4 linked regions of the Homo sapiens genome follow. The protein of the gene in region 2 purifies or fractionates together with the protein of the main gene of each other region. This does not show direct contact. Each region holds a gene or a part of one and is shown on either strand. Other genes may lie near its edges.

Region 1 (7,406 bases), on a different chromosome or scaffold from region 2:
AAATGTTTTGTGCTTATTAGTTCTCCTGATTTATATACAGGTATATATTTACAGTACAGTCTTGAGCATCAAAAATTGGAGAAAAGTATGTAACAATATTCCTTCTAAGTGTAAGAACTGAAAGTAACTCAGCTGGGCACAGTGGCTCACGCCTGTAATCCCAGCACTTTTGGAGGCCAAGATGGGCAGATCATCTGAGGTCAGGAGTTTGAGACCAGCCTGGCCAACATGGTGAAACCCCATCTCTACTAAAAACACAAAATTAGCCGGGAATGGTGGCACATGCCTGTAATCCCAGCTACTTGGGAGGCTGAGGCAGGAGAATCGCTTGAACCCAGGAGGCGGAGGTTGCAGTGACTCGAGATCGAGCCATTGCACTCCACACTCCAGCATGGGCAACAAGAGTGAAGCTCTGTCTCAAAAAAAAAAAAAAAGAAAGAAAGAAAGAAAGTAACTCAAATGCCAAGGAACAGGAAGATGATTACAGGGGCTATGATGTTGTCAACATGATGGAATAATCACGCAACTATGAAAAAAAACGAAGACTATGAGGAAACATTTAAAGGCATATCAGAACTAAAGGCTTCATGAGGTGGTGGCTCAAGCCTATAATCCCAACACTTTGGAAGGCCAACATGGAAGATCACTTGAGGTCAGGAGTTCAAGACCAGCCTGTGCAACATACCAAATCTCTGTTTTCACAAAAAAAAAATAATAATCATAATTAATCAGGTTTTGTGGCCTGTGCCTGTGGTCCCAGCTACTTGGGAGGCTGAGGTGGGAGGAGGCTTGAGACCAGGAATTTGAGATTTGAGGCTGCAGTAAGCTATGAACACACCACTGCATTCCAGCCTGAGCAAAGGAGCAAGACTGCCTCTTAAAAAAAAAAAAAAAATTAAAGTTAAAAAAGAAATGGGCCAGGTGCAGTGGCTCATGCCTATAATCCCAGCACTTTGGGAGGCCGAGGCGGGTAGATCACCTGAGGTCGGGAGTTCAAGACCAAGCCTGGCCAACATGGTGAAACCCCGTCTCTACTAAAAATACAAAAAAATTAGCCGGCCGTGGTGGCGGGCACCTGTAATCACAGCTACTCGGGAGGCTGAGGCAGGAGAATCCCTTTAACCTGGGAGGTGGAGGTTGCAGTGAGCAAAGATTGTGCCACTGAACTCCAGCCTGGGCAACAAAAGTGAAACTGTGTCTCAAAATAAATAAATAAATAAATGGATTTTTCCCTTTTGTAAACAGTAAATCACATCAGAGATATGACAGGCTTGATAGAGCAGAATATAGTGGGAAAAGCATGGCACTGGAGTCCAACAGAAATATCCCGACACCTGGCAGGCACTCACTCACACTAAGGAGTTACCCAATAAGCCTCAATTTCATCATCTGTAAATAAAAAAATAAAACTCACCTACCAAGTAAGTAGATGCCCCATAATAAAGAGTATTAAAATTAAAATCGAGATACTAGAAATTGATGATTATTTTCTCTTGATGGAAAGGTTGCAGGCAGGTTTCTTCGACAAAACGTGAAATACAAGACATTTATGTTAGCCAATTTTCTCTTATCACAATTATTGGAAAAAAATAAGTAATGACCTATTAAAATATTAATTTTAGGCACGTTTAATGTAACTTATTGATTTGATAAATATTATAGCCAAAATACAAAAATTCTGAAAAAGAGAAGGTAGAAATCCACAATACTCTAAGGCCATATTACCACTGTCACGATTTGGTGTACTTCCGGGCCTTCTTCCTTTCAGAACTGTAATCATGTCGCATAAGCCATTTGCATCCTGTTGATTTTCTCCGTTTAAGTCCAAACTGGAAGCATTTTTCCATTTAGTCTTCATAATCCTCACTTCTAACGATTGCATAACTGTCTACTCAAAACCGCTGCCCACAAGTAGCACTTAATAAACACTTTTAATGAAGGAGCAAATGCACACACCGTTATCGACCAAATCATTCCCCACTTACACCTTTTTCATGGAAAATGCCTGTGTGTTTTCATGCGAATCTCGTTTTCCACAAAGCTAGACTGTTCTATTAAAATAATAGAGTCTACATTCTATATTGGCAAATGCATGGCAAGAGAGGAAATAAACACGATGTTTTGTTTACCAGCAACAAATCTCCCCCAAAGAAATCTGAATCACGATGGAAAAACAAAACAAACTTGTGGGCTGGCTTTGCTGTCGTCCGGGTGGGTGGAGGAAAGACACGGCATATAAGCAAATGGTAAAAATTTCAAACAGATCAGGACAAACAGAATCCCTCGCCGGTAGCGACCGCGGTCACCAGTTTCTTGTCCTTTTTTTTTTTAACTTTTTTTTTTTTTAACCCAGAGATGCAAAGGGCTCATCCTTCCTGTACATTCGTCCAGGGAAGTCTGATTCATACATGACCGGCACCTGTGTGCACACCCACAGCTCCCTCTGCACCGCGTTTCGCCCTCGCTCCCGGGACGCTCCCACCGCAGCACCCACCGGTCAGCCCCGGCCATTAACTACGGCTCTGGGGCGTTCCCTGGCACTGCGCGCCGTCCTTCACCTCACACAATCTACCCCAGACGGGCGTCCGTCTCCCGACTCTGGGGAGACCACCACGATTTCGAGAGTACGGGCACCGGTTAGGATTTTCCTGCAGAACAGGCACCGCGAAGCTGCCCCGCTAAGCCGGCGCCGCGGCCCTCCCGAGAGTGCCCCCTCCGTCTCGGCCGTGGCACTGGGGCCAGGGGCTCCGGCCCCCTCGCGTCCTCGCTGGGGGACCCTGGGATCCCGAGACCCGGGCGCCCGGCTTCCCACGCCCGCCGGCCCGGCTCGCTCACCATTGGAGCGGCTGCCCGACTCGTTCTTGCAGTAGCCGCAGCGGTAGAAGTCCTCGCTAGGGAAATAGTCCACGACGCTGGGCGAACCCCCCGCCCAGAAAGCCATGGCCTCGGCCCCGCGAACGCTCAGCCGCCCGGCCCCGCGTCGCTAGCGCGGCCGCCGCCGCCACCCCACAATGCAGCGCGCCGCCCGGGAGCCTCCCGAGGCTCGCGCGAAGCCACTCGGGCGCCCGCAGGCCCGGCCGGCCCGGCGCCTCTTGGAGCTGACGCCGCCCGCGCCATCTTGACCGAGGGCAGCTTTCCACTATTTCCGTTCCTTCTCCATAAGGGGCCGCCGTCGTCAGTGAGGGTGAGGCGGAGAGACAGAGCGGGAAGGGAAACAGGATGGGGAGAGTCAAGAGGGGAAGGGAAGCGGGAGTCGGGGTGCGAGCCTGCCCTTTCCCCCGCCGAGGGCCTGTGCGGGGCGCGGCGGCCGCGCCAACTCCGGCGTCGGGAACACTCACCGCAGGACGCTTTGCCCTCCTTGGAATCGCAGTAGCCGCAGTGGTAGCCGGCCCTGAGGCCCTTGTATTCCACCACCGACGCCATGGCCGCCGCGAGGGTCCGCTCGGGCCGACCACGCCTCTTGGCGCCCGGGGCCGACCTCGGCGAAGCGCTGGGGCCCGCGGCGGGAGGGGTGGAGAGCGAAGCCTGGCGCGGGGACCCGTGGGCGGGGATGGTGGTCGTGTCCCCAAGCCCTGCGTTTGGGCCGGTGCTTCCCACAGCTGTGCGTTATCAGCCCCATTTCACAGGTAAGGAAACTGAGGACCGGAGGTTGTGATTATCCCAAAGTCATTCCCGGCGGGTCTCGGATTGAAAGTCAGGCCGCCCCTGGCCACCGTGTAAGTGACTTGCTGGAGCTGCTTCCAGACCAGCTGGCACGCACTCCAGTGCCCTGAATACAAGAACACAAGCAGGTATTCCGTGAATGGCGAGGGTTCGCAAATTAAAGAACTCTTAACGGCTTTTAAAGGAAACAACTGTCAGCTAGAGACAGTTGCTGTCTTGTACCACTATAAGTCCGGTGCCTCATACGATTTTTAATGAGATGCTGGAAATACAGGGTTTGTTTGTTTTTTTTAACTCTACAGTCCAAACAAAACAGTTTTACAGGCTGAATCCAGCCCATGGGCCTCCATTTTGCAACCACTATTTTAAGGAAGATTTAAGGAATAAGAGTCTAGGGCAAAATATAAAATTGAGGCTCATGCCTGTAATCCCAGCACTTTGGGAGGCCGAGGCGGGCGTATCATGAGGTCAGGAGATTGAGACCATCCTGGCTAACACGTGAAACCCCGTCTCTACTAAAAATACAAAAAATCAGCCTGGCGTGGTGGTGGGCGCCTGTAGTCCCAGCTAGTCGGGAGGCTGAGGCAGGAGAATGGTGTGAACCCGGGAGGCGGAGCTTGCAGTGAGCCGAGATCACGCCGCTGCACTCCAGCCTGTGTGACAGAGCAAGACTCCATCTCAAAAAAATTTTTTAAAAAATGAGTTCCAGGGGCGGGCGCGGTGGCTCACGCCTGTAATCCCAGCACTTTGGGAGGCCGAGGCGGGTGGATCACGAGGTCAGGAGATAAGAGACCATCCTGGCTAACATGGTGAAACCCCTTCTCTACTAAAAAATACAAAAAATTAGCGGGACGTGGTGGCACGCGCCTGTAGTCCCAGCTACTCGGGAGGCTGAGGCAGGAGAATGGCGTGAACCCGGGAGGCAGAGCTTGCAGTGAGCAGAGATCGCGTCACTGCACTCCAGCCTGGGCGAAAGAGCGAGACTCCATCTCAAAAAAAAAAAAAAAGAGTTCCAACAAGGTAATATGCCTTATCTTTCCCTCTGCGTGCACAGATAATTTAAGCCTGTCTGTCCTCATAGTTTTCCCAGTCAACAATAAAGCTGATGATACAATATTGTTTTAAGTGTGTTTAAAAAAGTGAAATGAAACTCAGAGAAATAGAAATAAATTTTTGAGGTGAGTTTTGACATTCTTGACCCCAAGGGCCTGTGTTAGATATGTACCTAGCTGAAGGAGGTTTCTTGGTGGCCTGGTGACTTGTTGAAGGGGGCCAGCCCCTCCACACCTGTGGGTGTTTCTCGTCAGGTGGGACGAGAGACTGAGAAAAAAAGTAAGACACAGAGACAAAGTGTAGAGAACAGTGGGCCCAGAGGACCAGGGCTCAGCATACGGAGGACCCGCGCCAGCACTGGTCTCTGAGTTCCCTCAGTATTTATTGATCACTATCTCTACCATCTCGGTGAGGGGGATGTGGCAGGACTATAGAGTAATGGTGGGGAGAGGGTCAGCAGGAAAACGTGAGCAAAGATCTCTGTGTCATAAGTTTAAGGAAAGGTGCTATGCCTCAATGTGCACGTAGGCCAGATTTATGTCTGGCTTTACACAAACATTTTAGTGCAGTAAAGAGCAATATTGCCGCCAGCATGTCTCACCTCCAGCCATAAGGCGGTTTTCTCCTATCTCAGTAAATAGAACGTATGATCGAGTTTTACACTGAGACATTCCATTCCCAAGGAAAAGCAGGAGAGAGATGCCTTCCTCTTACCTCAACTGCAAAGAGGCCTTCCTCTTTCACTAATCCTCCTCAGCACAGACCCTTTATGGGCTGGGGGACGGTCAGGTCTTTCCCTTCCCACGAGGCCATATCTCAGGCTATCACATGGGGAGAAACCTTGGACAATACCTGGCTTTCCTGGGCAGAGGTCCCTGTGGCCTTCCACAGTGCATTGTGTCCCTGGATACTCGAGATTAGAGAATATCAATGACTTTTACCAAGCATACTGTCTTCAAACACATTTTTAACAAAGCACATCCTGCACAGCCCTAAATCCATTAAACCTTGAGTCAACACAGCACATGTCTGTGCAGGCACAGGGTTGGGGCTAGGGTTACAGATTAACAGCATCTCAAGGCAGAAGAATTTCTCTTAGTACAGAACAAAATGGAGTTTCTTATGTCTACTTCTTTCTACGAAGACACAGTAACAGTCTGATCTCTCTTTGTTTTCCCCACGCTTGTTAATACTGCCAAGCATCACTTGTGCCTCCCACAATCGGAAGGCACCTAAGGAGTGGCCATGTAATATCCAGCAGCTTCTCAGGCGTTCCTCCAACTTCTTAAACTTGAAAACTGCATGCTATATCTCAGTATTCATGTTCTTAAGTCAAGCTTCATCCATTTTGTTCTTTATGGCAGATTTGACTATTCCCAGTCCTTTCCCAGACCGGCTCTCATTTTGAACAAAAGCAAAGCCCGTGGAATGCATCAGAAAGAGAGCAGAATATGCTCTGGACAGAAGGTGGACCAGGAGGCTTTTTGGTCTTAATATTCCTGTCCCACTTCACTTCTGTCCCTCTAAAGCCTCATCCTTATCCTAAGTCCTACACTAACCTCAGCCAGGGCACTTCAAGACATGCCAGCCTTGAAAAATAATGAGAATGTCCAAAGTCCTAGGCATATGTGGTGTTTTTTGGTTTTTGATTTGTTTGTTTGTTTGTTTGTTTGAGACAGAGTCTAACACTTGCCCAGGCCGGAGTACAGTGGCATGATCTTGGCTCACTGCAACCTCTGCCTCCTGGGTTCAAGCAGTTCTCATGCCTCAGCCTCCCGAGTAGCTGGGATTACAGGAGTGCACCAGCATACCGGGCTAATTTTTTATTTTTAGTAGAGATGGGGTTTCACCATGTTGGCCAGGCTGGTCTCAAAGTCCTGACCTCAGGTGATCCTCCTGTCTCGCCCTCCCAAAGTGCTGGGATTACAGTTATGAGCCACTGCGCCTGGCTTGTCTTTTCTTTTTGAGGCAGTTTCACTCTGTTACCCGGGCTAGAGTGCGGTGCCACAATCAAAGCTTACTGCAGTCTCAACCTCCTGGGCTCAAGTGGCTGAGATTACAAGTGCACACCACCACGCCTGGCTAATTTTTGTATTTTTAGTAGAGACGGGGTTTCACCATGTTGCCCAAGCAGGTCTCAAACTCCTGAGCTTGGGAGCTCAGCCCACTTTGGCCTCCCAAAGCGCTGGGATTACAGGCGTGAGCCACTGTGCACGGCCAGCATATGTGTTAACTCCCTTAATTCTTATAGCAACTTCACAAGTTAGGAAATGTAGATCAGAGAGGCTAAATAACTTACCCAAGGTTAAACAACTAATAACAGACATTTGGAGGGAGAAAAGGTAATAAAGATAAAAGAAATCGAAATGGAAAAGAGATAAACAAATACTAGGTTTGGAGCTGTGTGAGTTCCTAAATGTCTATTTTGCTCAAGGTCAGAGGCAACTTTTTTGTCTTCCATGAAAAAAAAAAAATACATAGCTTCATTTAGTTTCCTCCTTTTTGGGGGAAAATGGAGGACACTATTAGAATGTCGTTCTGCTTATGAGATGCTAGCAATAGACAGTTGTCTTTGCTTTTCATTTTCTTACTTGACAATAACATGGTGACAAAAAAATTTTTCGGTCCCATTAACTTCTTTTTTTTTTTTTTTTTTGAGATGGAGTTTCACTCTCATCACCCAGGGTGGA
Region 2 (7,023 bases):
CATACCAGCCTCACCAACCTCAAACAGCAAGTATAAAGGCTAACCCTGGGTGGGTGGAAACAGAGAGGGACAGATGGATGGGCACACTGACAGCACTGTGTGGCAGGGTGAAGCCCTGATTCATAGTGTTTGCCAATTTCCAGAGTGTAAATACTACTAGCATGGCCAATTTTAAGACAGCATTTATGTGCCAGTCAGTTCAGAGAGACAATTGCCTCTTGTGAGCTGGTGCAATTTGCTATGAGCTCCAGCACACCCTTGGCACAGTTCTACTTCCCAGGTGGGATGATGGGACATGGACATTTTTAAAAATAGATTATTTTACATTTATGTAGACATTATCATACAAAGTTGTATGGAATAGCTATTTGGTGACCGATAGTTGTTAAAGAGAGAACTGGAAGGCAGGATCTGGAAGGCCCGGAACAGAGAACAAGCAGAACTGTATTCTCGCTTTCCTCCCTGACACCATCCCTTCTCCAAGCTCAGAGAAAACTCCAGAAAGGCTTCCAGTGGGCACCTGGTTCCTCAGGTGACAGGGATCCGAGCCAGGTGGAAGAGGTTTGTCAGGCCCTGGGAGCACTGGAGAGGGCCTGGAGTGAGGAGAGAGGAAGGAGCCATACCAGAAACAGCCTCATTTTGCAATGAGGCCAAACCAGAATGTGGGGCAGAGAGAAGCCCCTGCGTGCTGTGACAGGCATCTGAGCCATCCAGAAGACCCTGGGAACAGGATCATAGCTAGGGAGGTGACTTAGTGGTCAAGAAAAGACTATGAGGCTTTGAAGGCAGAAGGAACACCTGACTTTGAGTCCTAGGCACAATGCAGACTACTGAGAGTTCTAAGGCAAATGATCTGAAATCTGCCCGTGAAATGGAGCTAATAGCACTCTCCCCACCCCAACCAAACAGGACTACACTGATCCAATGGAAACCCTGTGTAAATGTCAGAGCCTCCAACCCACCCTTCCTTTCTTCCCAGGTGGCGCCACCTCCAGGCTCTGGAGAAGAAAAATGATAGCCTGACAGCTACTGAGTGCTCACGACTTGCCTCGGCCAAGCACCTTCATGTGGCACTTCATAAAGTCCTGCCAATGACCCAGCAAGGGCCATACTCTCATTATCATCCCCACTGTACCGAGAAGGCAGCGGAGGCTTGCAGAGGTTGAGGATCCCACCTAAGGTCATACCCAGCTAGTGAGTGGCTGAGCTGAGCTTTGAACCAAAGAAACTTGATATTGTCACTGTGACCAAAGGTGCCTGGGATGGGGCTAGGGGTGTGGGGAGCAGCAGTCCCAGTTCTACTGGGTCCTGGGCCTCCTACTGGCAGATTAAGAACAAGAGGTGGGGAGGGCGCAGTGACTCATGCCTGTAATCCCAGCACTTTGAGAGGCCAAGGTGGGTGAATCACTTGAGCCCAGGAGTTTGAGACCAGCCTGGGCAATATGGTGAAACCTTGCCTCTAGCAAAAATACAAAAAAAAAAAAACAGAAAAGAAAAAAATTAGCCAGGTATGGTGGCGCGCATCTGTGGTCCCAGCTACTTATGGGGGCAGGGGGGTAGCTGAGGTGGGAGGGTTGCTTTCTTGAGCCTGTGAGGTGGTGATTTCAGTGAGCCAAGATTGTGCCACTGCACCCCAGCCTGGGCAACAGAGTGAGACTTCAAAAAACAAAAGAAGGGAAGGAAAGGGAAGGGGAGGGGAGGGGAGGGGAGGGGAGGGGAGAGAAGGGGAGGGGAGGGGGGAGGGGAGGGGAGGGGGGGATGGGAGGGGAGGGACCAGAGGTGCCTGACTGCCAACTGGGATGAATCATCCACACATCAAGGACAGGGGACTGGATGTTCCCAGCACTCGCAAGCTGACATAGAGGACACATGGGCATGAAATAAGTGTCCTTGAAGATGTGCCCTGGGGTCCTAGACCCCATATGGAGTGGAAACCCCAAAGGCCTTCCCTGCCCAATGCCTGGGAGACCATGGGTGTTCACGGCCCCACCCTTGCCCTTTGACTTGACCTCGAAACAAGTTTGACCGCATGTTGTAGCCGAGGTCATAGTAGTCTGAGAAGACGGAGGAGATTTCCACAGGATTCTGGGTCCTGCTGGGCCATGAGCTTGCCCTTTTCTGGCCCTCGAAGACTTCATCAATAGCCTTTTGAGCCTGAGCAGGGAGGCAGGGATGACAGACAGGGGATGGAAAAGCAGTTTCAAGCCCCATATCTCCCTCCAACTCCTCCTCCCTTGACCCTGCCCTCCCCACCCCGATCCCACCTGTAGCCTGCAGCCCTCAACCTATTCACAGGGCTGGGGAGCTGGGGTATACAAAGGCCCCAGCCCCAACTCCTCTCATCATCTGCACTGCTGTGGGTGGGGGGCATCAAGTTAATGATCATAAAACCTCTTCCAAGCATTGAGCATCTGCTACCTGCAACATTGGGACGGGGGGTCTCTATAGGGTGCCACTCTTCCCACCATTTTATAAATGAGGAAAGCGGGCCTCAGGAGACCAAAGATCACCCAGTTCACATGGCTGGCAGGGCACAGAGCCCTGGCTTGCCTCCTACAACTGAGGCACCACACAGGGCAGCTCTGGGTGGGTGCTTAACTTTCAATGAGGCCAACTCCCTCTTCATACCAATAGGGAAACTGACACACAGAGAAGCTGAGCCCAGGTCCAGGGGCAGGACACCTAGGTTTGAGTTCCAGTTCTGCAATATATCAGCTGTTGACTTCAGCAAGCCTCTTCTCCACTCTAGGCCTCAGTTTCCCTACATGTAAAATGTGAAGGCAGGGTGGAACTGGATGGTCTTTGAAGTGGCTTCCAGCTCTGACACTTGCTGGCTCAATGACACTTGTGACATAAGTTACAGATGGGCAGAAAACACGGATTTCTTGATTCCAGCCAGGGACAACGGTGGCTGAAGAGAGAAAGGACTTCTCCCAAGGCTGGGCAGGGTGGTGAGAGGTGGTGACCACAGAGTCAACCTCAAATTGGGACAAGTTCCTCCAAGTGGGGCAGAACATGTCAAGACTGTGACCTTCCAGACTTGCTGGTGGTGGGGTCACTGCACTTTAAGATGACAGAGTGGAAGGGGAGCCTAGGAGAAGCCTGACCCCCAGCTTTTGTGACCCAAGCAGATCGTAGCCCCTCCTTGGGACTTGGTTATACTATCTGTTATAAAGGAAGCAATAACTCCTGCCTGACCTTCCACACAATGCAGTTGCTATGAGGGTTGAGATGGTGGCTTTAAAAATATGTCTCAGAATGCCAGGACAGAAAGAACATAGCATTTGACCAGAAACGGTAGATGAATTTTATCTCGTGTCAGTTGATTTGTAATGACTGCCTGGAATGCTATATCGGGTGGAAAAGAGTGCTGGCATTGACTAGTGATGTCTGCCATGAATGCAGGCTGGGAGGGTTGTGATACGCTCACCATGTATTTGTCAGCCTGATCTAGTGCAACTGCCTCGCTTTACAGATGTGGAGACTGAAGCCCAGAGAGGGTAAGTAACTTATCCAAAGTCATCCAGCATTTAGGATCAGGTCCAGGATTCAAACGCACGTCTTCTGATTCCCAATAAATGCTATCCATCCACTAAATGCTGTCTTCTTTGGGAGACTTGATCACATGGAAAACATCCAATTCACACAAAAGGCTTTTAACTGCAAAGTCATTAAGGATCAGAGTTCCAGAATCTGCCGACCCAGTTTGCACCCTCGTCTCGCACAGTTAGGTGAATTTGGTTGACTGACTTAACTCCTCTAAGCCTCGGTCTCCTTATCTATAAAATGAGGACAATAATAGTACCTTCCTCATGGGTTGCTGGGAAGATGTAACAACTTGTTATATGTGAAGTTTAAACAGTGCACAGTGTTTGGCACACAGCAGATGCTCAGGAGATACTGCTTTCTAGTGGTATTATTATAGGGACTCTGTACTCAAGAGTGAGTTTATCTTATGTCCTCATTATAAGACTCTGCATCACCCTCCTGGCCCCTGCTATGACACCTGCTCCTCGGAGACCAGCTGGTCCACCACATTGCTCCCAAACTTGTGGCGAATGTTGTTAGGAATGATGCTGCCCTTCTGGTTCGTGGGCGTGCTCCTCTGGTCCTGAGCCCCCAAGCTGGGACCGTCATCCGTCCCCTGGCATGGCTGAGCCCCCTCTCCCGAGGTGGCCCTGTTCTCTCTCGAGGAGGATCGAGAGCCCGCATTCTTCAGGGACCTGGACTGTGGGTCCATGCCCAGAGAATCCCTGCTGGCAGCAGTCGGGGGTGGAGGGGGAATCTCCTTCAAGTGGCACTGCCCTAGGGAGCTGCCTTGAGCGCTGGCTCCCAGGGGCAGGGGCTGTGGGGATGACAGACCCTGGTTCTTGAACTTGGAGGTGTCCAAGGAACTGTAGGCCGCTTTCCAGGGGTCCAAGTCCTGTTGGCCCTCCTTGTCATTCAGATGGGCCCTGGTGAAAGTGGTTGTACCTGAGCAGGACAAAGAGAAACAGAGGGGGAGGGAGAGAGACACGCAGACAAGGGCAGAAAGTAGAGGGTGGGGAGGGGGCAGAGATGGGGGTGAGGAGGGGAAACGGACAGACAAAGAGCCCCAGAGCTCCACAGCCAGAGAAGGGGAGAGGGACGGAGAGGAAGCGCAGGAACCAGAGGCATGGGTGGGAAATTAGGAGACACAATGGGAGAAGAGAGGCCAGCCTGCGTGCCTCCCACGGGCAGGGTTAGTCCACATTGCCTGGGGCAACAAGGGCTGCCGCCTAAGCCTGTCCCGCCTTGAGGCCTAGCTGTGTGACCGCAAGCAAGGGACTTGGCCTGTCTGTGCTTTCATGTCCCTGGCTCCATTTGGATAGTTCCCTTCCCCACTTTTCCATCTTGAAACCTCCCCCTCACTCTCCGCAGTGAGAATCTGGCAGCAGCGGCACTGGCAGAGGCGTTCCTGGGGCTAAGCCACATGCCTGGGAAGTACTGGAGTTGGATGGGACTTCCAGACTTTGCTTCCAATGCAAGACTGCTCCCCAATACCTACCTCCTCCCTTCGCCAGGGCTGAGAAGTGGCACCATCCCAGCCACCTCCCAGGCTCTCTCCTCCCCGCCTCTCCCTGTCTCCCACGTCCCTGCCCACAGCCTCCGCTTCTCTAGGTCTCTTGCTCTCAGCCTTCAGTGTCTCCTCACAGCCTGGCCTCATCCTCCACCCCAGATTACAGCTGTAAATATGTTTGGTGGTCTTCCCTCCAAAACTTCAAGTCCTCTTAAAAGATACATAAGGGCTGGGCATCTTGGCCGTCAGGCCTCTGAGCCCAAGCTAAACCATCATATCCCCTGGATGATAAACCTCCGCAGAGTTTATCTAAATGTGGCCATGTATGAGGATTCCCTAGGCTCTCATTAAAAATACAGATGCCTGGGACCCTCTCAGAGCTGCTGCATCAGAAAGGCCCTGAATCTGAGTGTTTAACAAGCCCCTGGGCATTCAGGTCATTGGAGGAAGATTTTAGCAGGATCGCTGCCCCAACTCACTGGACTCTCTTCTCCCCATCCCACCTGCCAGCCCCAGCCAACCTGCACTCACCCCTGGGGACCATTCTCAGAGCGGGCCTGACTCAGTCACGCCTGCATCAAAATCTTTCCTCTTGTCCTCAGGGCAGAGTGCCTGCTCTCGGGACTCCACAAAAGTGCCAGCCGTCTCTCCCTCCCAAGCCTTTGCCTGAGCTATTTCTCCTGCCTGGAACACTCCCCTCCACTCCTTGGGCTACACTACCCCTGCTCTTGGCTCACGTGTAACCCCATATATACCTCCCATCCATTGAGGCCAGGCCCCTCACCATGTTCCCCCACAGCCCTGCCCTTCTGGTACACACAAGACTCAGAGCACCTGAGTCACCCCCTCAGGATGGAGACCATATCGGGGTGATAATCCCTGCACATGGCAGGATGGGAGGGCTCAGTAATTCCGTTCCCTCCTTTTTCCTTCTGTCTTCCAACAGAATGCCCCCCTAGGAAGCCTGGGCCGATGGTGGGTCTGGAGGCCAACACAAGACGGAGCGGGAGGAGAAAGGGCCGGTGCCCTGCTGCCCCAGGGAGTCCCTCCAGAAGCCTGGATGTGCATTCAGCACATCCCTGGTCTGCCTGTCCTACCTGCTCCGTGGCCCAGCTCCATAGCCTCTTGCTGTGGGACAGGCAATTCCAAGCTTAGTCCTGTAAACAAAGCACCACGTTTCATCGTCTCAGATAACACACAGAGTTTCTGTGAACAAGGATGAGCTGGGAGCTGAACAGGAAGGCCTGTGGCTGTCTGCCCGCCCCTGATCAGAGGTTCCTAAGCTGCCCCTGGTGCCCTCTGGCACTGCCCAGACCCACGGAGCCTCTGCCCCATTCACTCATCACCCCTGGCACAGGGGCTGCCTCCTGGACTTCTGCAGCCTCTGCCCTCTCTGAAAAGCCCTGGCCACCCCCACCCCACCCCACCAGTCCTCAAAGACCTATCTCAAGCAGCCTTGGAACCCTGGGCTCATTTTACTCCTTCATAATTTTTCCTTTCATCTCCTCCTCCTCTTCTGCCCCATCACCACCACCCTAGGAGACCCTAGCAGGCCCCTGGCTGTGAAGCCCATTGCCCCGGCTCCCATCCTGGCAACCATTTGTCTTCCTGCAAATAGGATTGTATCCATTTGCTGAATGGTCGTTCGTGCTCAGGGAAGGGAAGCAGCTTAGCCACCACGAAGGAGAACCAAGAGCAGGAACCCACACTTTGCTCTGGTGTAAACTCAGTCTTCTCTCTAAGGCCTTGGATTCAAATTAGAGGGGTAGATTCAAAAGCCTCTGCAGCTTTCGTGCTTGTGTTTTGTTTTCTTATGTGATCTTTCTTTTTTTTTTTTGAGACAGGGTCTTACTCTGTCACCCAGGCTGGAGTACAGTAGTGCAATCTCAGCTCACTGCAACCTCCACCTCCCAAGTTCAAGCAATTCTCCCACCTCAGCCTCCTGAGTAGCTGGGATTACAGGTGTGCACCACCACATCTGGCTA
Region 3 (7,023 bases), on a different chromosome or scaffold from region 2:
TCAAATAAAACAAGAGCCTCCTAGAAAGAAAATTAAAATATTTTACCTGCAAGAATATGTAGGCTCTCCTACTTTAAAAACACGACCACAAAGATGAGAAGGTTTGTTTGCTTGCTCAAGTTTTGGAAATCCAAATGCAGGATCTTCACCACAAAGGTACCATTCCATTGGTCCCAACAAAACATGCTGTGCCAGCATGTCTTCTTTCTGTGGAAAAGGGTTGGGACCCCTGCAGTAGATTTTGGGTACATAGTGGGCTAAATGCTGGTACACTTCTCTAGTGAGGTCAGTTGCTTGCAGCCATTTCTTTAAAAGAAGAAAAGAGAAGAAATGGTTTTAAACACCAACAAACTAATTTGAACAAATTCACCCTACTTTCTTTTAGGTACAAAAATAATGACAAAAGCATATTAAAATATTTTGTTTACAACACTCACCACCGTACGTTAGAAATTTAATCTATTAAAATGCCAAGTATGTTTAAATCCTACTTTTAAGTGTAAGTAAAATTAAAATGAAACAAGCCTCCCTCCTTCCCTGCAAAATGACTCTTGAAGCAATCTTCTCTAGGCAGTACCAGAAAATAATTACAAGAAATCATTATATAAGATATGAACCATTGAGCTCACCTAATGTCCTTCCTAATGCTTTGCTCAAATGTTATTCTCATTGTGATATCAATTCTCACGTCAGTTTGTCCATAGGAAGAGTGTACGGTGAATATGAACAGCCAATATGTACGGTGAACATGAACAGCCAATACACATTTCTTAATGATTGATAAGCAAGTTTATATACCAGTCTCTTATTGAATAAGTCAGTCCACAAGAGACTGTTGTACCAATTATGCCTTCTTTCTCTGATCAACTTCTCTCTCTCTATAAGGCCTTTTCCGTTTGCTCTCCCCACTAAAAACAAATTTTAAAGCATGATTCTACTTAGATCTCATAGGTACCAACTCAATAACTGAATGCATGATCTCCCCTCCATGCTCCACCAAAATCTGTTATTTTCTCCATTTCCAGCTCAACCTGGGTATCCACACCGAAAAATCTGAAAAGCTTCCCAGCACTTTGGGAGGCCAGGCCAAGCAGATCACCTGAGGTCAGGAGTTCAAGACCAGCCTGGCCAACATGGTGAAGTCTCTTCTCTACTAAAAATATAAAAATTAGCTGGATGTGGTGGCGCATGCCTGTAATCACAGTTACTCAAGAGGCTGAGGCAGGAGAAATCGCTTAAACCCAGGAGGCAGAGGTTGTAGTGAGCCAAGATCCAGCCTGGGCGACAGAGCAAGAGTCTGTCTCAAAGGACAAAAAAAAAAAAAGACTCACTTCTGCTAGAATGCAGTTAACTGAACCGTGAACAAAACCCACAGATGGAGGGAAAGAGGAAGGGGAAGTGAGTTGAAAAACTACCTATTGGGTACTATGCTCACTACCCAGGTGCAATATACTCATGTAACAAACCTGCACATGTATTCCTTAAATCTAAAGTAAAAGCTGAAATTAAAAAAAACCTCCAATGTTTACCTATGGATTACTACCTAATTCCAGTTACATTTTTATTTAAAAAAAAAAAAAAAGTATGTTCAAGTGATATGTAACATCATAAGAAGTCAACATAAGGTCTTCATTTTAGCTATTACTTGTATATTCTTCAGACCACTCCTTCTAAAAACAACATACAGAGAGATTTTAAATATGCATGAGGTGATGTATATTAACTTTCTAGTCAATTTCTGTTTTCAGAGAACTTTTACTAAAAATGTAAAAATTTTGTTCATAAGTTAAGGGACTGGATAGAAGCTTATAACCAAAAACGGTGAAAGAGTTTTCATGCTTAAAGTGAAACTAAACTATTTTCCAAATATTACTAACATTGTTGTGTTTACATTATGCAAGTAGGAAAGAGACTAAATTACTTTCAAAACAACAGCATTTCTTCCCTGGTGGCCAAGTGGTTAGGGAAAAAAAAATAAAAATAAAAATAAAACAGCAGCAGCAGCATCATTTCTTAGGAGACAATCCTACAGGCTTTAAGTATTCTCTCCCTTCAGAGTGACTCAATCAAAATTTTATATATACATACACATCCTTTAAGCTCAGTAATTATAAAGAGGACAAGTTTTAAAAAAAGAAAAAGAGTCCTCAACAAGCATACTAGAATCTTATTCTTTGAGCTAAAAGACCTCGTTTTGGCCTCATTCAAAGGTAAATGTCTCATTTTTCACCCATTGTCAGCAAACCAAAACAAGAATGAAGGTAGTCAAATGATCCTAAGCGCTTTTTTTTTTTTTTTTTTTTGAGTCTCGTGCTGTCGCCCAGGCTGGAGTGCAGTGGTACGATCTCGGCTCACTGCAACCTCTGCCTCCCAGGTTCAAGTGATTCTCCTGCCTCAGCCTCCTGAGTAGCTGGGGTTACAGGTGTGCACCACCACACGCGGCTAATTTTTGTATTTTTAGTAGAGACAAGGTTTCACTATGTTGACCAGGCTTGTCTCAAACTCCTGACATCAGGTGATCTGCCCACCTCGGCCTCCCAAAGGTGCTAGGATTCAATTTACTCTTTATGAAAGAAAAATTAAGCAATAAGACCAAAATAATTCACCTCCATGATCCTAGAAAGTTAAGTGCTTCGGACTTTTTTTTACAACATATTGAAAGATTTTATTTAAAAACCAGTTTTTTTCCTTATATTTTATGTTCCCATTCCTGTAAAACTTCACTGTTGCAAAATTTTAATACAAGAATGAAAGGTTACTTTAGAAGGGATGCTTTTTTTTTTTTTTTTTTTTTTTTGAGACGGAGTCTTGCTCTGTCACCCAGGCTGGAGTGCAGTGGCGCGATCTCGGCTCACTGAAAGCTCCGCCTCCCAGGTTCACGCCATTCTCCTGCCTCAGCCTCCCAAGTAGCTGGGACTACAGGCTAGCATGGATGCTTTCTAAAAAAAAATTATGCAGTCTAGTAACTGTAACGAGAGCAAATTTGTTCATAGATTTCTTCAACAAAAATTCAGACGCTAGTATCAGCTTCTGGTTAAGAAAAAAAAAAAAAATCGGCCAGGCTCTTTGGCTCATGCCTGTAATCCCAGCACTTGGGAGGCCAAGGCGGGTGGCTCATTTGAGTTCAGAGGTTCGAGTCTAGCTTGGGCAATATGGCAAAACCCTGTCTCTTCTAAAAATAAAAGAAGATTAGCTGGGCATGGTGGTGCATGCCTGTAGTCCCAGCTACTCAGGAGGCTGAGGTGGGAGGATCACCTGAGCCCCGGAGGTTGAGGCTTCAGTGAGGCATGATCACGCCACTGCACTTCAGCCTGGGTGACAGAGTGAGATCCTGTCTCAAAAAACAAACAAACAACAAAAAAAAAACTAGCCACTTTACATAAAAATATTATTAGTAAAACAAGCAAGTATTTCACTCTTTATTACATATTATTATAAATAACAAGACTTAAAAGTCTGGTCCAAGAAAGGCATGCATATGCTCCCCATTTTTCAAATCTTTACTACTCCTGGGCACAGTGGCTCACGCCTATAATCCCAGCACTTTGGGAGGCCAAGGTGGGCAGATCACTTGAGGCCAGGAGTTCGAGACCACCATGGCCAACATGGTGAAACCCCATCTCTACTAAAAATACAAAAATTAGCCAGGAGTGGTGGTGCACGCCTGTAATCCCAGCTACTTGGGAGGCTGAGGCAAAAGAATCGCTTGACCTCAGGAGGTGGAGGTTGCAGTGAGCCTAGATCACGCCACTGTACTCCAGCCTGGAGGACAGAGTGAGACTCCGTCTCAAAACCAAAAACTTTACTACCATTATATGAAAAAATCACAATCACCTAAAAGATTTGGGCTCTATTACAGGCACTTTAAGCTGATTAAACATACATACTTAATATAAAAAGCAAGAAAAATTTATGACTGTCTTTCAGAAGTAGCTCACACATTTCCCCAAAGAATAAAATCTATAGCTTTTCATATTAGTTCTAACATATGCTAACTGCAACTGTTTCTTCAACATGAAAAATTAAGATTTCCAGTTTGGTTGGCCTTTTGTCTTTATTTCAGACACTTGTAGCTGTCACACCCATGTGGCATAAGAGAGTAATAAGCATTCACTATCTTACTACAAGTCCCTCTTAAGGGAAGTAAAGAAACTGTCAACTCATTCCTCTAAAGTAAACATGTTATGACAATGTTTCCAGGAGCTTTCCCTCTATTAAATACTAAATTTAAGCCTTGGGATAGAAAGCAAGTACAATAAAATAAAAATGAAATGAAAAATGAAAGAATCCCTAGAGGTTAGTTAGCCTTTTATTACAGTCTCTATTATTCTATACCCAATTAAAATTGTATCCTTTAACTACTTTTGGTTTTGCTTTCAAACAAGGATAAGCAACATGTAAGTTAATCATAAAACAACTAGTGCTCATAACCATAAAAACAATAGTGTTTAAGTGGGAGTTTTAGGGAATATATTGAGAAAAATTTTAAACAAATTATATTAAGAGCTCTACAAATTAAGGAGAATATTTACAAATAAAATATAGAAATTTAATAGGTCAAAAGACTAATTGAAAATAGGCAAAGAAGACATAAAAATGGCCAATAAGCTCATAAAAAGATGTTCCAACATGACTCATGAGGGAAATGCAAATCAAAACCACAATGAGAAGGCATAACACCCAAAAGAATGGCTGTAATCAAAACACAGGCAAAAACAAGTGTTGGCAAGGATCTGGAGAAATTGGAACTCTCATGCACTACTGGTGGGAATGTAAAACAATGCAACTGCTTTGGAAAAATCTGGCAGTTCTTCAAAATAGTTAACATATGACCCACCAATTTCACTTCTAGGTATGTATATACCCAAGAGAAACAAAAGCATATGTCCCCACAAAAATTTGTAAAAAATGTTCACAGCAACATGATTCATAATACCCAAAAAGTAGAAACAACCCAAATATTCACCAACTGATGAACAGATAAATAATATATGGTTTATCTATACAAAGGAATGTCATTTGGCAATAAAAAAGAAAGAATTACTGACACAGGTTGAGCATCCCTAATTTGAAAACGTGAAATCCAAAATGATCCAAAATCTGAAACTTTGCATGCCCACACGATGCTCAAAGAAGTGCTCATTGGAACATTTGGATTTTGGATTAAGGATGCTCAACTGGTATAACTGCAAATATTTTAAAATCCAAAAAAATCCAAAATCCAAAACACTTCTGGTGGCAAGCGTAACAATACTCAACCTGTACATGGTACAACATGGATAAATATTTTATTTTTATTATTTTTTTTTTGAGACAGAGTCTCGCTCTGTTGCCCAGGCTGGAGTGCAGTGGCGCGATCTTGACTCACTGCAAGCTCCGCCTCCCGGGTTCATGCCATTCTCCTGCCTCAGCCTCCCAAGTAGCTGGGACCACAGGCGCCTGCCACCACGCCCGGCTAATTTTTTGTATTTTTTAGTAGAGACGGAGTTTCACCGTGTTAGCCAGGATGGTCTCGATCTCCTGACCTTGTGATCTACCTGCCTTGGCCTCCCAAAGTGCTGGAATTACAGGTGTGAGCCACCGCGCCTGGCCCAACATGGATAAATATTTAAAACATTATCTAAGAGAAAGAAGTCAGCCACAAATGACAATATGTTGAATTCCATTTATACGAAATATCCAGAATAGGCAAATCTACACAGACAAAAATTAGTAGTTGATTAGACCTCAGGAGTTTAGGTGTGAAAGGGAAGTGACTGCCAATAGGTACAGGATTTCTTTTTTGGGGTGATAAAAATGTCCCAAAATTGATCATAGTGATGATTGCATGAATCTGAATATACTAAAAACCACTGAATTTAACTGTACAGTATGTGAGTTATATCTCAATAAAACGGTTTAAAAAATGTACAGCAAAAAGATAACCAATACAGACCTAAAACTCTACATAAAACTTAACAAATTCATTATTTATTAAAACAAAATTTTTTTTGAAGACAGGGTCTCACTGTATCACCCAAGATGGAGTACAGTGGCATGATCATAGCTCACTGTAACTTCTAACACCTGGGCTCAAGCGATCCTCCCTGCTTAGCCTTCTGAGTAGCTAGGACTGCAAGTTCATGCCACCACACCCAGCTTATTTATTTTATTTTATTTTTTTTTAGTAGAGACAGGGTATAGCTAATGTTGCCCAGGCTGGTCTCAAACTCTTAGACTTAAGCAGTCCTCCCACCTCAGCCTCCCAAATAGCTGGGATTACTGGCATGAGCCAGTGCTCCCAACCTGTATTTCTTTTATATTCAGGGAAAAAGATGGGGTCCCGCTCTGTCACCCAGGCTGGAGTGCAGTGGCGCGATCTCGGCTCACTGCAACCCCAGCCTCCTGGGTTCAAGCAACTCTCCTGCCTCAGCCTCCCGAATAGCTGGGATTACAGGGGTGCACCACCATGCCCGGTTAATTTTTGTATTTTTAGTAGAGACAGGGTTTCACCATGTTGGCCAGGATGGTCTCTATCTCTTGACCTTGTGATCTGCCCTCCTTGGCCTCCCAAAGTGCTGGGATTACAGGCAAGAGCCACCACACCCGGCATGTTTACTTTTAAAACCGTAATCACTCACTGGAACATACTATAACCATATGTAGTATAGAAAGTAAACAGAGCCAAGAAGTGTTGGGAAAGTCATACTTATGGAGTCAATTCTAACAAGAAAAGAGAAGAATGAGAAGAGAGGGCCACTGTAATATCCTAAACTTACAAATATTAAAGAGTCAGCTTAGATACTTTTCTTTGTGAGGCATACTAGCTGGAATGGATGGGATCACAAAAAGTTCTTCCTCCTTATAACAGGAATAAGAAAAGCGGTGTGTAAATGAAATGTGGAAAGGTTGACACTAGTGCTCATTAGGTGATTTTTAAATGGAAGTGATCCTAACAAATTACCAATGACAGAGGTCTAAAGCCTACAATCACTGTTTTCTCTACTTGTTTCTCTTCCCTAAAATGTGCTTTCAACCTAAGAA
Region 4 (7,023 bases), on a different chromosome or scaffold from region 2:
GAGGACACCAGGCTGGTGGCCACAGTGCTGCTGTCCGTGGTCGTGCTGCTCCACGCCCTCCTGGCCATGGGCTGTAAGGTACGGGTCTGGGGTGGCCACAGGTGGGGCCGAGGGGCTAGGGGGGCATGGGCTGGCCCTGCCTCTGACCCCAGGGGTCTTGTGCAGTTGTACTTCTTCCAGTCGCTGCCTCCGGAGAACGTGGCTCCTCCACCCCAAATCACATCTCTGCCCTCAAACATCGCGCTGTCCCCTACCTTGCCGCAGTCCCTGGCCCCCTCCTAGGAAGGCCCGGGTCCCACAGGTAAGGACTATTCCCAGCTGGGCTAAGGGGGCTGCCCTCCCACTCCCAGTCAAGGCGAGAGGTTCTGGGGCCACTCCCAGACAATTCTTTCTTTCAGGCAACACCTAAGTGGACCAACCCCTCTGCCTGTCCTGCCCCCCAGACGATGACTGAAGGCTCCTTTGACACCTTGAGATGATTCTGCTACTTTCCAGACTTTTCTTACAAAGCAAACACTTTTATTTTCTATGCAAAGGTGATTCAGAGAATTTATATAAAGGCGGGCGAGGGGCAGCCGAGCAGGGAGCTTTGGGACAGGGCTGGGGCCCCCATATCCCCCCCGGGCCACCTGCTTTCCCTCCTATGGCTCCCCTGGAACAGGAGGGAGAGCCAAGGGGGCGGCCCAGCCTGGACAGCGCCCGCTCCTGCCTGGGTGCACACACGGCGGGCCTGAGCTCCAGCATCTGAGTTTGGGGGTATGAGAAACAGGGGAGCAGAAGGAGAAGAAAACTGCCTGTGCTGCAACACGTTTCCTCATTTATTTTTTCTTTCTTTTTCTTTTTTTCTTTTTTTGGAGGGAGAGGTCCCTGCAAGGTCCCTTCCCGGGCAGGGGAGGGATGGAAATGCCGTCACAGTAGTAGGGACTGGAGCGTCTACAAGGATGGAGGGGAGCTACTCAGGCCTAACGTTAGCTACAAGGAAAAAGGACGCCTTCCGTGACAGATCCTTGAGGTGTCTGTGTCTGCCCCAAGTGGCCGGCAGTGGCCTTCCCTCCGGGCCCAAGGCCTGCAGCCACCTGCTCTAACTCTTGAGTGGGGGGGCGGGGGGGGACCTGCAGGGGCTCGGGGACAGGACAGCAGCAAGAGGCAGGGGCCGAGGACGGAGGCCTTCCCGACAGTGGGGTGGGTTGTACATTCAAGTGTGAGGTGAACCCTTTGGTGGGGAGGGGGCCCCTGAAGCCTCGGCGGGGCCACCCCTCCCCGCGGCGCCTCTGAGTCTAGGGAGAGGGGCTGCTGGCTCGGCCCGGCCGGCCTGGCTTCACAGAGGGTCTGCGGATTGACACTGGTTCTTTTCATAAAAAAATAAAATTAAAAAAAGCAGCATGTCACGTCCGTTGTGACCGAGGCCTGGTCGTCGAAGGGGAGGCCCCGCCTGGCCAGGCTACCTTCCCACTGGAGACAGGCAGGGGGACAGGTGCTAAGGGACCTGGCAGGCAGGGCTGGCAGGCCCCATGGCGCCTGTTCCAGCAGATGACAAGCCCAGGTCAGGGTAGAGCGGGCAGGAGGGGGGACGAGGGCTCCCACAACATGATTTTGTGTAAAATATGGCAGCGACACACGCTCAGGGCCGGGAGGTGGGGGTTAGGGTGGGGACGGCGGCAACATCGTGTAAAAAAGTGTCCCAGTTCCCATAGCAAAGAGAGCTGTGACCGGGTGTTCGAGCTTCTCCAGTACAAGGGGGAAAGCCGCCCGGCGGGGGCGGCGGGCAGGGACATCATTTGGTTTCCTGGTGCTGTCAGTCCGCGGGGCGGGCCCCTAGCTCCCGTAGTGCATGGTGTTGGTCGGGATGGACATGGGCGACGCCATGGAGATGGCGGGGCCGCCCATGGTGAACTGGCTGTTGACTGCATAGTGGGCACTCGTGCTGCCACCACCACTGCCCTGGGCGCCGGAGGACCCTGTGGAGCAGGCAATGGCAGTGAGGGGCTGCCCTGGCCCGCCCAGCCCCCAGGCAGAGTCACAGAGAGAGAGAAAGGGCAGGCAAGAGGGCAGGCGGGCGGCCGGACAGAGGATGGCGACTCACACGCTAGCTCGGCCCCCACGGGCCCTGCCCCCGCCACCCTCGTTACCTTGGACAATCCCCGTGCTCATTATGGAGCCCATCCGGGAGTGGGTGTGATTGACAATCCCCGTGTTGGCTGCGCAGCGAGAGGGAGGAAAGAAGGAAGGGAGACGGCGTCACCGCCCCCAGCCACCCAGCCCATGCACAGCAGCAGGCTGCAGAGCGAGGCAGAGAGGACGGAGAGCCTCGGCCGAGAGCCCCCAGGAAGAGGAAAAGGTGAAAGGACCAAGCAGAGGCCGACCCTGGTCACCACAGGCCCTTCCCGGCCCCTGGGCAGTCCTGGGCATGGCTCCCTGCTGCCCCTGGCCCTGGGGGACACTCACCTAAAGGAATCAGGTTGTTGTGGCCCACGCTGGAGCCACTGGCAATAACACTGCTCAAGTCATAGGCGGTCGGCATCCCTGTGTCCAGAGAGGGAGACGTCAGGGCTGGAGGCAGAGGGGCCAGGCCTGCGGCGAGGGCGGCCTCCCGGGTTGGCTGGGCATTGGGGTGGGCCCTGCTCACCTGCCACGGCCATCCCGCTGCTGAGGTTGTAGGTGCTGCCCGTGTTCCACATGTTTTCCGAGGGAGATGTGTAGTGGGAGCCGGGTGGGGGTGAGGGCGTTGTGCCCGTGTATCTATGGCAGAGACAGAGCCATGGGCAGGGGCAAGGGGGTTGCAGGGCCGGGGCGCCCCCCTGTGCAGGCAAGGGGCCCCTCCTACCTAAAGAAGGGGTTTTTCAGATCCAGGAGGTTACTGGACTTGGAGCCGGTCTGGTCCACCTGGGCCACAATACTGATGTCGTAGCTCTGTCTGCGGACAGGGTGCAGGCCGTGGCATGAGCTGCTGGGCAGATGGACCCCTGCCCACCACCACCAGCCCCAGGGAGCAGTCGCACCTTTTGTTGGCAATAAGCAGACATGTCCCTGAGAGCGTGTCCCCTGCCTTGGCGAACAGTGGTGACTGGAACAGGCACCGCACCTGGTACCAGTGGGTCAGGGGCTCTGTCGGGGCTGTGGACAGCCACACGGTCATTCTGTGGAGCAGGGACAGGCACATACTTGACTGGGCCGGCGCCACCACTGGAGCCACCACCTTGTATGCCTTGAGTCCTCCCCAAGCACCTGCCCCCTCTGCCAGGGACCCCTGGGACCCTGGAGCAGAGACAGGCTGGCCCCCAGGCAGTCCCAGACACAAACATGAGCAGGCATACATGTACACACGAGGGGCCCGCAACCACGAGATCCCTACTCACCCTGACATGTGCCAAGAGACAGACACAGACCCATGAGGGACAGACACTGGGAACACAGGACACACACACACATACACACACACACACACACACCCCACCCACAACAGTCTCTTGCTCCGAGACAGGCTCTCACTCCCATTGGAAGGGATGGTGGAACCTGGAGCCATGTTCCACCCCCCCAGCCAGGTTGCAGCTGCAGGAAGCCCTGGGAGTGGGGAGGAGGCAGCATGGGCTGCTCTGCGGCACTCACATGGAGCCGATGAAAGCAACGTCAAACCAGAAAGCCAGGCCGTGGACCAGCCCTGAATGCAGCATGTGGAATTTGAATGGGATTTCTATCCTGGAAGGCAAAGGGCAGTGGCTGCTGGGGAAGCCAGACAGGCGCTGCCGAGAGAGAAGAGGGGGTGCCAGGTGCAGAGGCCTGGGGCCCCCGCCCACCATCTGCCCTGGGACGGCAGGATGCCGGCGGGAGCCAGGGGTGGCCCTGACCTTCGGCCTGAGCCAGGCCTGGGAGGATGGAGTGTGGGTGCCAGTACCTGTGCAAATCTCCTTCTTTGGCTTCTAAGAAGTTCACCGTGTACTTGACAGACTTGGCCATCAGGATCCGGATGTCAAATGTGTCCTGGGAGAGACCACAGGTGTGACGTGGCATCTGACGCCAGGGCCAGCATGGGAGGGGAGAGCCCTGCCCCTTCCCCCAGGTCTGCCCACGGCTTCTAGGCTGTGCAGCTAAAACGAGCTTGCTCTTCCCAGACACGCCGTGAGGAGGGGACCGGCACAACGCCACCGAGGGCAATCAGGTGACAGCTCTCCAAATGACAAGTGTTTATCCACATAAAAGATTTGGCACTACAGGAGTTTAACCTCCAGATACATGAACACATCAACAAACTTACATGTATAATTAGATTGTCCGTGGTAGCGACACACTGGAAACCATCTAATTAAACCAGTGATGGCTCTCCCATCAAAGACCATGCGGACGTGAGAAAGAATGAAGAGGCTCTTTATGAACAGATGAGGAAAGATCTCCAAGCTAAATCATTAAGCAAGTTAACCAAAAAAGCAAGTTAAAGAACTAGGTGCTAGCTGGGTGTGGAATTGTATGCCTGTAACTCCAGCTACTCAGGAGGCTGAGGCAGGAGGATCGCTTAAGCCCGAGAGTGTGAATCAAGCCTGGGAAACACAGGGAGACCCTGTCTCTTAAAAACAACAACAACACTAGTGCTGCTGTCCACTCCCAGCAATGTTTATATCCGACTAACACACCTGCCATGAACTATGTAAACCGAATAAAATCCAAAGAAAAGAATAAACCAGTTGTTGGAAGCACTGGTGACCAACCAGAGCGGCCAGGATTTTGGGGATCAAGCTCCTGGAAAGGAGGGAAATGCCCTTTCTGGAGGGAGCCCTTTCTGGCCTCTACCTTTTCCCCATGGGGAGGGCAGAAAACGGCCACCTCGACCTTTCAGCAGCTTCCTTGGGTGGGGAAAGCAAAATGGGAGCTCAGGGTTACCAAGGCAGCTCGGATTCAAGGGGCTGTGATGTCAAAGCAAAGGGAAATAAGTGCAGGAGGGCAAGGTGGGCGGTGCACACTCAGTGCGCTTGTGAAATTGGCCAACTCCTGAGCTTTGAGCGAGGCAGGGCATCAGAGGCTAAGACACCAAGCAGAAAGCCGCTAATAAGAGGCTCAACGCCAGGTGCAGTGGCTTATGCCTATAATCCCAGCACTTTGGGAGGCCGAGGCGGACGGATCACCTGAGGTCAGGAGTTCAAGACCAGCCTGAGTAACACAGTGAGGCCCCATATCTACAAAAAAATAAATTAGCCGGGCATGGTGGCACACTCCTATAGTTCCAGCTACTTGGGAAGCTGAGGCAGGAGGATCACTTGCGTCTGGGAGATCGAGGCTGAAGTAAGCCATGAAGTGATTGAGCCACTGTACTCCAGCCTGGGGAACAGAGTGAGATCCTGTTTCAAAAAACAATAAAAGCTAACGGGTGGTTCAGCAGCATATTGGTAATGAGGCTAACCACTGGACTTGCATTAACATTACCAAAGGCTGTACCATAAAGCAGCACCTTCTCAAACTGTGGCCTCTTCCAAGGCACCCTCATCATAATACAAAATTTGCATAATACCACCAAAATATTTCCTGCTTTTTTCACTCATTCACTCCCCAGTGATATCACAAAAGACTGAACACGCTGGGCATGGTGGCTCACGCCTGTAATCCCAGCACTTTGGGAGGCCGAGGCAGGCGGATCACCTAAGGTCAGGAGTTTCAGACCAGCCTGGCCAACATGGCGAAACCCCATCTCTACTAAAATTACAAAAAACTAGCTGGGAGTGGTGGCAAGCGCCTGTACTCCCAGCTACTCAGGAGTCTGAGAATCGCTTGAGCCCGGAAAGTGGAGGTTGCAGTGAGCTGACATCATGCCACAGCACTCCAGCCTGGGCAACAGAGCAAGACTCCGTCTCAAAAAAAAAAAAAAAAAGAAAAAGAAAATGAGAGAAAAAAATGGATGGAAAAGACAGAAAAGAGTATAACAATCATCTGAGATATGGTGAAAAGGTTCACTGTACACGTAATTGGAATCCCAGAAGGAGAAAGAATGGGGCAGACGTAGTGTTTAAAGAGATAGTATCCAAGATAGTCCAAGAGTCTCCCAAAACGAATGAAAAACATCAAGAGCAGGGGGAAAACAGAATAAAATGGAACCTTTTTTTCTTTTTTTTTGAGACGGAGTCTCACTCTGTCGCCCAGGCTGGAGTGCAGTGGTGCGATCTCGGCTCACTGCAAGCTCTGCCTCCCGGGTTCACGCCATTCTCCTGCCTCAGCCTCCTGAGTAGCTGGGACTACAGGCGCCCGCCACCACGTCTGGCTAATTTTTTGTATTTTTAGTAGAGATGGGGTTTCACCGTGTTGGTCTCAATCTCCTAACCTCGTGATCTGCCCGCCTTGGCCTCCCAAAGTGCTGGGATTACAGGTGTGACCCACTGCACCTAGCTTTTTTTTCCTTTTGATTTTTAAATCATGGATCTATGTATCAAAAATCTCAAGTAAAATCAATCAATAAATCACATCAGCTCACCAAGGATAAATTCATCTAGTAATGGTTCTTTTTTATTTTTATTATTTATTTATTTTAATTTTAAAAATAGCGATGGCGTCTCTGTGTTGCCCAGGCTGATCTTGAACTCCTGAGCCTAAATGCCCCCTCTGCCTTAGCCTCACCTAATAATGTTCCACATGTATTGCATGTGTGCTGTGTGCTAAGTGTCTACATGCATTGACACTTTTGGCCCAAATCTCTGTGAGAGCGCTGTGCAGGGCAGAGGAGAGGGCTCAGAGAGGGGCTGTAGCTTCCTGAGGGCTGCACAGCTGCACAGCAATGGCAAGTGATCACTGCAGCAGTACCCTGGAGGCCCTACTCACCACCACAGGCTGCCGGAAATACTCATCCACCGCGGCACCTCGGAGGGCCGACAGGTCCACTCCATGGAAAGATGGCTGGTACCTGTGGACAGGCCCCACCCCCACAGCAAGGTCAGGGCTGCAGAAGAGGCAGGTGGGGTAGCCCTGCCTTCTCTCCCAGTCAGCCCTCATCTAGCCCAAGTCTTTCAGAAAAAGAGGAGTGCAGGCTCTCTGGGGAGCTGGGGCTGT

What was found.
Region 1: the proteins of CIMIP4 (region 2) and ATE1 purify together in Homo sapiens (affinity purification with mass spectrometry; 3 studies listed by BioGRID and IntAct, with this or other methods). This does not show direct contact.
Region 3: the proteins of CIMIP4 (region 2) and UBR2 purify together in Homo sapiens (affinity purification with mass spectrometry; 3 studies listed by BioGRID and IntAct, with this or other methods). This does not show direct contact.
Region 4: the proteins of CIMIP4 (region 2) and CARM1 purify together in Homo sapiens (affinity purification with mass spectrometry; 3 studies listed by BioGRID and IntAct, with this or other methods). This does not show direct contact.

Annotation. Positions count from the first base shown.
Region 1 is NC_000010.11:121,925,009-121,932,414, forward strand, and holds the start of ATE1 (arginyl-tRNA--protein transferase 1), read right to left. Parts: upstream 3,024-7,406; 5' UTR 2,942-3,023; coding exon 2,836-2,941; intron 2,724-2,835; exon of another isoform or gene 2,495-2,723; intron 2,465-2,494; exon of another isoform or gene 1,883-2,464; coding exon of another isoform or gene 1,726-1,882; intron 1,699-1,725; exon of another isoform or gene 1,415-1,698; intron 1-1,414. UniProt on the Homo sapiens protein: Involved in the post-translational conjugation of arginine to the N-terminal aspartate or glutamate of a protein. This arginylation is required for degradation of the protein via the ubiquitin pathway. Does not arginylate cysteine residues.
Region 2 is NC_000022.11:36,997,831-37,004,853, forward strand, and holds part of CIMIP4 (ciliary microtubule inner protein 4), read right to left. Parts: intron 6,196-7,023; 5' UTR 6,158-6,195; coding exon 6,136-6,157; intron 4,474-6,135; coding exon 4,007-4,473; intron 2,155-4,006; coding exon 2,010-2,154; intron 1-2,009.
Region 3 is NC_000006.12:42,567,017-42,574,039, reverse strand, and holds part of UBR2 (E3 ubiquitin-protein ligase UBR2), read right to left. Parts: intron 307-7,023; coding exon 47-306; intron 1-46. UniProt on the Homo sapiens protein: E3 ubiquitin-protein ligase which is a component of the N-end rule pathway.
Region 4 is NC_000019.10:10,916,550-10,923,572, reverse strand, and holds the end of CARM1 (histone-arginine methyltransferase CARM1), read right to left. Parts: intron 6,878-7,023; coding exon 6,796-6,877; intron 3,979-6,795; coding exon 3,893-3,978; intron 3,697-3,892; coding exon 3,607-3,696; intron 3,138-3,606; coding exon 3,000-3,137; intron 2,915-2,999; coding exon 2,825-2,914; intron 2,740-2,824; coding exon 2,627-2,739; intron 2,524-2,626; coding exon 2,446-2,523; intron 2,199-2,445; coding exon 2,130-2,198; intron 1,959-2,129; coding exon 1,816-1,958; 3' UTR 498-1,815; downstream 1-497. Other genes in the region: protein YIPF2, read left to right, coding at 1-78, 166-282. UniProt on the Homo sapiens protein: Methylates (mono- and asymmetric dimethylation) the guanidino nitrogens of arginyl residues in several proteins involved in DNA packaging, transcription regulation, pre-mRNA splicing, and mRNA stability.